2 separate regions of the Homo sapiens genome follow, and region 2 is linked to region 1. The links come from fine-mapping of genetic effects on gene expression. A gene starts in region 1. The other region holds a variant in brackets. All regions are shown on one strand. Distances are from middle to middle. Region 1 holds the start of ADAM33 (ADAM metallopeptidase domain 33). Region 2 overlaps SIGLEC1 (sialic acid binding Ig like lectin 1).

What was found. PIP is the estimated chance that this variant, and not a neighbour inherited with it, causes the effect. A credible set is the group of variants that fine-mapping cannot tell apart.
Region 2: its variant is the best candidate, but not a certain one, in a credible set for the expression of ADAM33 in breast (GTEx, PIP 0.81).

Annotation. Positions count from the first base shown.
Region 1 is chr20:3,679,870-3,684,250 of GRCh38, reverse strand. It overlaps ADAM33 (ADAM metallopeptidase domain 33), which reads left to right and starts at 2,241. Exons shown (of 22, transcript NM_025220.5): 1 at 2,241-2,343. The coding sequence starts at 2,247. RefSeq lists an enhancer at 1,923-2,816.
Region 2 is chr20:3,701,019-3,705,399 of GRCh38, reverse strand. SIGLEC1 (sialic acid binding Ig like lectin 1) reads left to right here. Exons shown (of 22, transcript NM_023068.4): 5 at 1,309-1,575; 6 at 1,949-2,203; 7 at 3,759-4,058. Among named protein-coding and RNA genes, the nearest start is that of SIGLEC1, 9.4 kb to the left of the region's middle. RefSeq lists an enhancer at 3,464-3,758. The variant T/C (reference allele first, on the strand shown) is at 2,025.

The DNA.
Region 1 (4,381 bases):
GCAATGGCATGATCTCGGCTCGCTGCAACCTCCACCTTCTGAGTTCAAGCGATTTTCCTGCCTCAGCCTCCCAAGTAGCTGGAACTACAGGCACTCACCACCATGCCCGGCTAATTTTTGTATTTTTAGTAGAGATGGGGTTTCACCATGTTGGCCAGACTGGTCTTGAACTCCTGACCTCCAGTGATCTGCCCGCCTCGGCCTCCCAAAGTGCTGGGATTACAGGCATGAGACACTGCGCCTGGCCAAGACCAGGAGTTTGAGACCAGCCTGGGAAACAAAGTGAGACCCCCCTGTCTACAGAAAAATTAAAAATTTTAGCTGGGCCTGGTGCCGTGTGCCTGTAGTTCCAGCTACTCAGGAGGCTGAGGTGGGAGGATACCTTGAGCCCAGGATTTCAAGGCTGCAATGAGGCATGATCAGGCCACTGTCCTCTAGCGTGGGTGACAGAGTGAGACCCTGTCTCTAAATAATAATCATAAGAACAACAAGGACCCTCTAAACGCACTGATATCTAAGGTGTATTAAGCGACCAAAAAAAAAAAAAAGAAAATCAAAGTGCAGAAAAACGTTAATAAGAGAAAAAAATATGTCTGTATTGTCTTGAGTGTGAAAAAATAATCTAAAAGCCTATGAAAGAAACTAATCATATTGGTTTCCTGTTGGTGAGGAGGGCTAAGAGCACGGAGACTTTTCCCTATGCTTTCTGTACTTTTTGATTTTGAGATATGTGAATGTAGGTTTCTCTCACTGCTCGAACTTTCACTAACCAAATTACTACATTCCAAATTCTCAAAAACAAATAGATTTACTTAAAAGTAGGCTGGGTGCGGTGTCTCACGCCTGTAATTCCAGCGCTTTGGGAGGCCGAGGCGGGCAGATCACCTGAGGTCGGGAGTTCGAGACCAGCCTGACCAACATGGAGAAACCCCATCTCTACTAAAAATACAAAATTAGCCAGGCGTGGTGGCGAATGCCTGTAATCCCAGCTACTCGGGAGGCTGAGGCAGAAGAATCACTTGAATCTGGGAGGCAGAGGTTGCAGTGAGCCCAGATCATGCCATTGCACTCCAGTCTGGGTAACAAGAGAGAAACTCTGTCTCAAAAAAAAAAAAAAAAAAAAAAGATTTGCTTAAAAGTTAACATCTCCGGCCGGGCGCGGTGGCTCATGCCTGTAATCCCAGCGCTTTGAGAGGCCGAGGCGGGTGGATCACGAGATCAGGAGATTGAGACCATCCTGGCCAAAATGGTGAAACCTCGTCTCTGCTAAAAATACAAAAGTTAGCTGGGGGTGGTAGCGCGCGCCTGTAGTCCCAGCTACTCGGGAGGCTGAGGCAGGAGAATCGCTTGAACCAGGGAGTCGGAGGTTGCAGTGAGCCAAGATCGCGCCGCTGCACTCCAGCCTGGCGACAGAGGGAGACTCCATCTCAAAAAAAAAAAAAAAAAAAAAGTTAACATCTCATCCAAATTTGCACCGAGTAGGAAAACAAAAGTTTAAAACATGAAACAGATGTTACTGAGGCCGAAAGGGTCTCCCAGGCCTGGGAGTCTGCAGCTTTTATGCAATTCTGCCCTCTGGCCACCGCCAGGGAAGAAAGGTTGTCTCCGTCTGCTGCATCGCCTTTGCCCAGCAATGAAGCCCCCAAGACAGCGGCAGCCGGTTGCCTGAACCTTCCTATCCTTGGGGGCACCCAGTGCAGGTGGATGACCCGACTCAACCTCCGCCAGGGCACCCTCGGGGCAGGACGGGTAGCAAGGAGGGGACAGAGATCGGCCCCAGGAGACCACGGAAGATCGCGCTCCTGGGGCCAACTTCAGCAGCGAGAGGCGGCCTTTGCCCACCGCCTCATCCCACCACGCCGCGGTCCTCCAAGAACCTTCCCAGCGGTTCTCTCCTCCTCTCAGGAGTAGAGGCCCTCTGAGACCGACGGGGAGGGACGGCTCGGGCCGGTCATCCGAGGGGCCGCACGGATTCCCTCCTCCGCCCAGCTCCACCCCCTCGAGGGGCGGCGGTCCGGGAGTGGCGACCCGGCTCCCCCATGGCGCGCGCCGTCGGGGCCCCTGGCCAGGCTCCGAGCGGGGTTGGCGGGGAGGGGAGGCGGGAGCGAGGGCGGGCGGTGGGAGGTGGGGGCGGGAAGGTCCGAAGGCGGCGGCCTGAGGCTGCACCGGGCACGGGTCGGCCGCAATCCAGCCTGGGCGGAGCCGGAGTTGCGAGCCGCTGCCTAGAGGCCGAGGAGCTCACAGCTATGGGCTGGAGGCCCCGGAGAGCTCGGGGGACCCCGTTGCTGCTGCTGCTACTACTGCTGCTGCTCTGGCCAGTGCCAGGCGCCGGGGTGCTTCAAGGTGAGGACGCGGGCGGGGTGCGCCCTGAGGGGCAGGCTAGGCGCGGTGGTGGTGGCGGGGATGGGTTCTGCTCAGAGCTCGGGTCAGCGCGCGGAGGGTCTCACGGCCCCGGCACCATACGGCCAGTAGGTCAGGGCGTGGGGACTCTTTGGGGGGGTCTCCGTGGGACCTGCCCAGGGACGCTCAAGTGTGCTTGGGCTGGCCCCGGGCCCGGACTTGCCCACACTGCCCGGCTGCCACTCCGCTGGCAAAGCAGAGGGCATGGCTCCCTCCCCCTCGGGGGCAGCCCAGCCCCCAGCCCATAGCCGTAGCCCCCTCTTCCTGGATTCTCGCTCTCACAACCAGCTTCCATCCGCAGGCCACCGTGTGACCCGCTCCTGCTCCTCCACCCCTTAGGACTCAGCGGGGCTCCGTCCTCTAGGAAGCCCCCATGCCCAAGAGTCCCCCAGAGTCCCTGCTTTGCTCTCAGGCTGCAGAACTAGCTGTGGCCTCCACCCTGCTCACCCCTCGTCCCTCCTCCCAGGGCAGCAGGGCAGTGTGTATGTTGTTTATATTGTTGCCTTGTTTGGTGAGATAGAGAAGGGCCTCTCCAGATAGAAGGTGTCTGTTTAGCAGTGCTCTGGGAAGACTGCAGCTGTCTCCTCGGGGTAACCCCTCCAAACAAAGATGTTAAGATGGGGCTGGAACAACCTCTGCAAGCGGGTGGGAGGATTAGCCAGTCCTGCACAGCAAGTGCCTGGCCGGGAACAGGGAGGGCAACCAGGGAGGGGGCATGCGGGGCTGGGCTGTGCTATGCAGACTGGGCGGTGGCTTCCACAGCACTGTGTGGGGACCAAACAGGTACAGGGGCCTGGTCTGTTCTGGCCCCAGGGGAGGGCCCCAGGCGGTCCACTGCTCCCTCCCCTCTGAGCCCTATCCTGGGGTCAGGGGAGGTGATGGGACCCCTGGGAGAGGGGCGTCTATGTGCCCAATACCAGCCTGGCTCCCTCGGGTTCCACCCCCATTCACCCGGTCACCGGAGCTCCAGCTCCAGCTCCAGCTCTGCCCCTCTCTCCCTCATTGGGGTCAGGGTGCCCGTGGCCAGCACGTGCGCGCAAGGCCATGTGGACAGCACCCACACACCACACTGCACCCACACCACACCTGTGCCCGGGCCCACCCTACCTCTTCCCCAAACCCTTAGAGGCCTAGGAGCAGCAAAGCTTGGTTCTCTACTCTCAGTTAAGTGCTCTCTGGGCTGAGAGACCTCCCCTCCTTCCCCTCCCCCACATCCACTCAGAGCCCTCCCTGCACTGGCCCCTCTAGCCTCCTTTCCAAGGTGGCAGACTCCTCTCGGCCCTCATCTGCCTGATGGCAATTCACTCATCCAATCAAGGAGGGCTTCTTGGAGGAAGGGTCTTTGATGTTTGTAGTCTGGGAGAGAAGGTGGAGGAGAAAAAAGGAGTTGGGGTGGCCTAGCAGGAGCTGAGTCACTTCCACAGGCAGCCATCAGCCCAGCAGGACTGAGGCCAGGGCTGCGTGGAGGGGGGAGGCTGTCTGTTCTGGGAGCTGGGACTGGGTACCGGGGGAAGGAGGGCTGCTGCAGGCTCTGGGTGCCTGGGGCCTGGCTCCTGCAGGGCGGGCCTGTGAGAGTGGTTGGGGCCAGTGGAGGGCTGGGAGCATTCCAGGGGAACATTCCAGGCGCCCTCTGAGTAATGCTTGGCTCTGGGATTCCTCCTAGAGCCCCCTTAGGCACACCCGGCCAGGGAGCACCAAGGCTCCGTCCAGAAGCGTCCCCTCCCCTTGAAGAGATGAGGAGGGGCCTTCTGGGCCAGGGTACCAAAACCCTGCCACCAGGACAGAGTCCCCGAGGGAGCTCTGGGCAAGGTGGACCTCGCAAGGCAACATCTGGCTGTTGTTTTTCTCAGATGATGGGGGGGGCACAAGTGTCCTCTCTTCGTACATCTCTCACCCTAAAGGCATCTGCTGCCCATCTAAAAATCCCTAAGGCTGCCGCGCTCTTTCCTTCCCCTCTGCACTGGCGGCCTTGGCCTCTTCC
Region 2 (4,381 bases), 21 kb before region 1:
GGATTTATCCCTTTCCTGCCTGGCTCTGTTTTCTCAGTCTATGACGAAGATAACAATAGATGGTTCCTGTCTCACAGATTTATGATAAAAATTAAAGGAGATGGGCCGGGCGCGGTGGCTTATGCCTGTAATCCCATCACTTTGGGAGGCTGAGGCGGGTGGATCACTTGAGGCCAGGGATTCAAGACCAGCTTGGCCAACATGGTGAAACCTCGTCTCTACTAAAAATACAAAAATTAGCCGGGTGTGGTGGCATATGCCTGTAATCCCAGTTACTAAGGAGGCTGAGGCACTAGGATTGCTTGAACCCCGGGGGTGGAGTTGTATTGAGTTGTGATTGTGCCACTGCACTCCAGCCTGGGTGACAGAGTGAGACTGTGTCTCAAACAAAAAACAACAACAACAACAAAAACAAATAAAGGAGATGACCCAGGTCAAGGATTTAGAAGAGTGCCTGGCACATATTAAACACTTGAGGCCGGATACAGTGGCTCACACCTGTAACCCCAGTGCTTTGGGAGGCCAAGGCAGGAGAATTGCTTGAGGCAAGGAGTTCGAGACCAGCCTGGGCAACATAGTGAGACCCTGTCTCTACAAAAAAATTAAAAAACAAAAATTAGCTGGATGTGGTGGCTTGCACCTGTAGTCCCAGTTCCTCGGGAGGCTGAGGCAGGAGGATCACTTGAGCCCAGGAGTTTCAGGCTGCAGTGAGCTATGATTGTGCCTCTGCACTCCAGCTTGGCTGACTGAGCCAGATCCTCTTTCTAAAAAAATAAGAATAAAACACTTGAATACACAGAGAGAGGCTTTGGAACAAGATTTAAGGAAATGCAGTTCTTTGTGTTGTTGGCCTCTTGCTTACAAACTGGGTAACTATTTTCAGAGCTAGTTTGATGCTGCCTTTGGCCCCCTCCCACTAGGTAGTTGGTCCCTTACCAATAGCTTCCACAGGCCACTAAAGCTAGCAGTGGGGTACCCATGACCCTGTGTGTGGAGCTCATCCCAAATAGAGCAGGAGCAATGGACAGCATTGGGAAGCAGAAAACTACAGCTGGTGGGGTAGGCTGGACGCTGGCCAAGCGTCACATGATCAGCTCTCAATGGGCATAGGAATGCATCAGGCGCAGGGGGCGGGAAAGGGACGGACATGGGCAGACAGAGCATGCCCTGGGTGAGGATTGAAGGGGACTGCTGTTTTATCTGGGCATACTTCCTTAGGACTGAGCTTTTAAAGGGGGGCAAGAAGAAGTGTGCCATCCTCTGCCCTCCCCAAGCACCTTACCCAATACCCCCTACTGTGACTTGCAGATGCCCCCAAGGGTGTGAAGATCCTCCTCAGCCCCTCGGGGAGGAACATCCTTCCAGGTGAGCTGGTCACACTCACCTGCCAGGTGAACAGCAGCTACCCTGCAGTCAGTTCCATTAAGTGGCTCAAGGATGGGGTACGCCTCCAAACCAAGACTGGTGTGCTGCACCTGCCCCAGGCAGCCTGGAGCGATGCTGGCGTCTACACCTGCCAAGCTGAGAACGGCGTGGGCTCTTTGGTCTCACCCCCCATCAGCCTCCACATCTTCAGTGAGTTCTTGGGAAGGTTGCGTATTGGCCAGAGAATAGGGAGGAGCTCAGGCCTCAGGGACGGAGGGGAGACAGGGCAGGGCAGGGCCAGCAACTGGCATAACCCAGTGCTTCCTGGATGCAGGTGTGGAGTCCCAGCCCTGCCTTACCATGAGACAGGTGACAATACCCCCACGAAGGGTGGGGTGTCAGGGGGATCCTGGTGAGCAGGACAAAGAGATGCAGAGCACTCCAGGAGGCTCCCCTGTAGCAGCAGGCGGGTGGTGTAGGATGTGCAGAGATTGAGGCTGATTGGCTGAGACCCGGGGACTGTATGGGGCTGGGGCTGGAAGTTGGCTGGGACCCCCCAGCACTCCCTATGCTGCCCTTGCAGTGGCTGAGGTCCAGGTGAGCCCAGCAGGTCCCATCCTGGAGAACCAGACAGTGACACTAGTCTGCAACACACCCAA[T/C]GAGGCACCCAGTGATCTCCGCTACAGCTGGTACAAGAACCATGTCCTGCTGGAGGATGCCCACTCCCATACCCTCCGGCTGCACTTGGCCACTAGGGCTGATACTGGCTTCTACTTCTGTGAGGTGCAGAACGTCCATGGCAGCGAGCGCTCGGGCCCTGTCAGCGTGGTAGTCAACCGTAAGAGGCCAGGGTGGGGTGGCACTGGACACAGTCAGAGCAGGACCAGATGGTGGAGCCCCAAGGAAGGGTTGGGGTCCTGGGCATGGGAACTTCAAGGCCACTTACCTGGAGGTGGCCTTGAGCTCATGTCCCAGCTCTGCACACCTGGGCAATGCTTTGACCTCCCTAGTTCCCTCCTATTTTATATTTGGAAGTTTAAACTTATGAAAAGTTGCAGAGAAAGACAAATAATGATTATATACCTTTAACCTAGATTTCCCATTTATTAACATTTTGGCACATTTGCTTAATCTTTCTCGCTGTCTACACAGACACACACACGCACATACATACATATAAATGTATGGATATAGACTTGCATATATACAGGTGCACTTGTGTGTATGCACATCCACTCTATGTGGACATGTGCACTTATACATATATGGACACTCTATATACATATGCATATGTTATTTATGTATCTACCTACATATTTATATTCCTGAAGTTGCAGACATGAGGCTTCTTTACCGCTAAATTCCTAAGATCATTCTCTTACATATCCACAATGCAATGATCATGATCAGGAAAATTAGCATTGATAGAAGACTTTTTTTTTTTTTTGAGATGGAGTCTCACTGTGTTGCCCAGGCTGGAGTGCAATGGTGCTATCTTGGCTCACTGCAATGTCCGCCTCTGGGGCTCAAGCGATTCTCCTCCTGCCTCAGCCTCCTGAGTAGCTGGGATTACAGGCACCCACCATCCTGCCTGGCTAATTTTTGTGTTTTTGTAGAGACAGGGTTTCACCATGTTGGCCAGGATGGTCTTGAACTCCTGACCTCACGTGATCCACCTACCTCGGCCTCCCAAAGTACTGGGATTACAGGTATGAGCCACTACACCTGGCTGATAGAAGACTGTTATCTAAGCTATAATCTATATTCACATTTTACCAGTGGACCTAATACTGTCTTTTGTAGCCATTTTTTTTCTGGTCCAGAATACAATCACAGTTCACATATTGCATTGGGTCGTTGCGTCTCTTCATTCTCCGTTAGTCTGAGACTGTTCCTCAGTCTTTCCTTGTCATTCTTGACATTGAAACTTGCAGAGTGCAGGCCTGCTGTTCTGAGGAGGTCCCTCACTCCACATTTGCCTGACTTGAATGGCCTGAGACCATGCCCTCTGGGTGGGAAGGCCGCGGACATGCTGCTCTGCCCTGTCAGGAGGCACTCTGTGTCAGCTTGTCCCATTGCTGATGATGCTCACTTTGGTCACCTGGCTGAGGTGCTGTCCCTCACCAGGTCTCTCTATTAGTTTTCTCATCTTTGAAGTGGGGCTTTTATCCCCACTTGCAGGGTGGCCTTGAACACTGACTGGGACAACAGAGTGACGTACCCAGCCCAGCCAAGGACAAAAGTGTATTCAGCAGGCACTCAGGCACTTTGGGATCACCCCCTTCTCACAGGGCAGTGTGGGACAAAGCGGTGCAGAGGTCACGGGTTGTATCAGGGTATCCAGGGAATGCCCTTGTCTGAGGGTGACAGGCCCACCTCTCGTCTCCACACAGACCCGCCTCTCACTCCAGTCCTGACAGCCTTCCTGGAGACCCAGGCGGGACTTGTGGGCATCCTTCACTGCTCTGTGGTCAGTGAGCCCCTGGCCACACTGGTGCTGTCACATGGGGGTCATATCCTGGCCTCCACCTCCGGGGACAGTGATCACAGCCCACGCTTCAGTGGTACCTCTGGTCCCAACTCCCTGCGCCTGGAGATCCGAGACCTGGAGGAAACTGACAGTGGGGAGTACAAGTGCTCAGCCACCAACTCCCTTGGAAATGCAACCTCCACCCTGGACTTCCATGCCAATGGTAAGATGGGCACTGGCAGCCAGGGAGAGTGGAGGGAGCCTGAGGAGGAGCCTGCTCCAGTCTGTTCCTTCTAGAAGTCTAGTGGACTCAACCGCAGGACTGAGCTAACTGGCTACGCCACATAAAAGACAGGGGCTGTGCAGTGACCCAACGGCAGAGCTTCCTGGAAGTCAAGGGAAAAAGGGAAACACAACAGGTCACATCATTCCTTTTGCACCTACCCTGACCCTAAACTTGGAGAGTCCCTCAGAAGCATTCATTGTTTTTTAATTATGAAACTCTGGGAGCAGGCTCTATGCTAGCAGTCAGATGTGGGAAGCCAA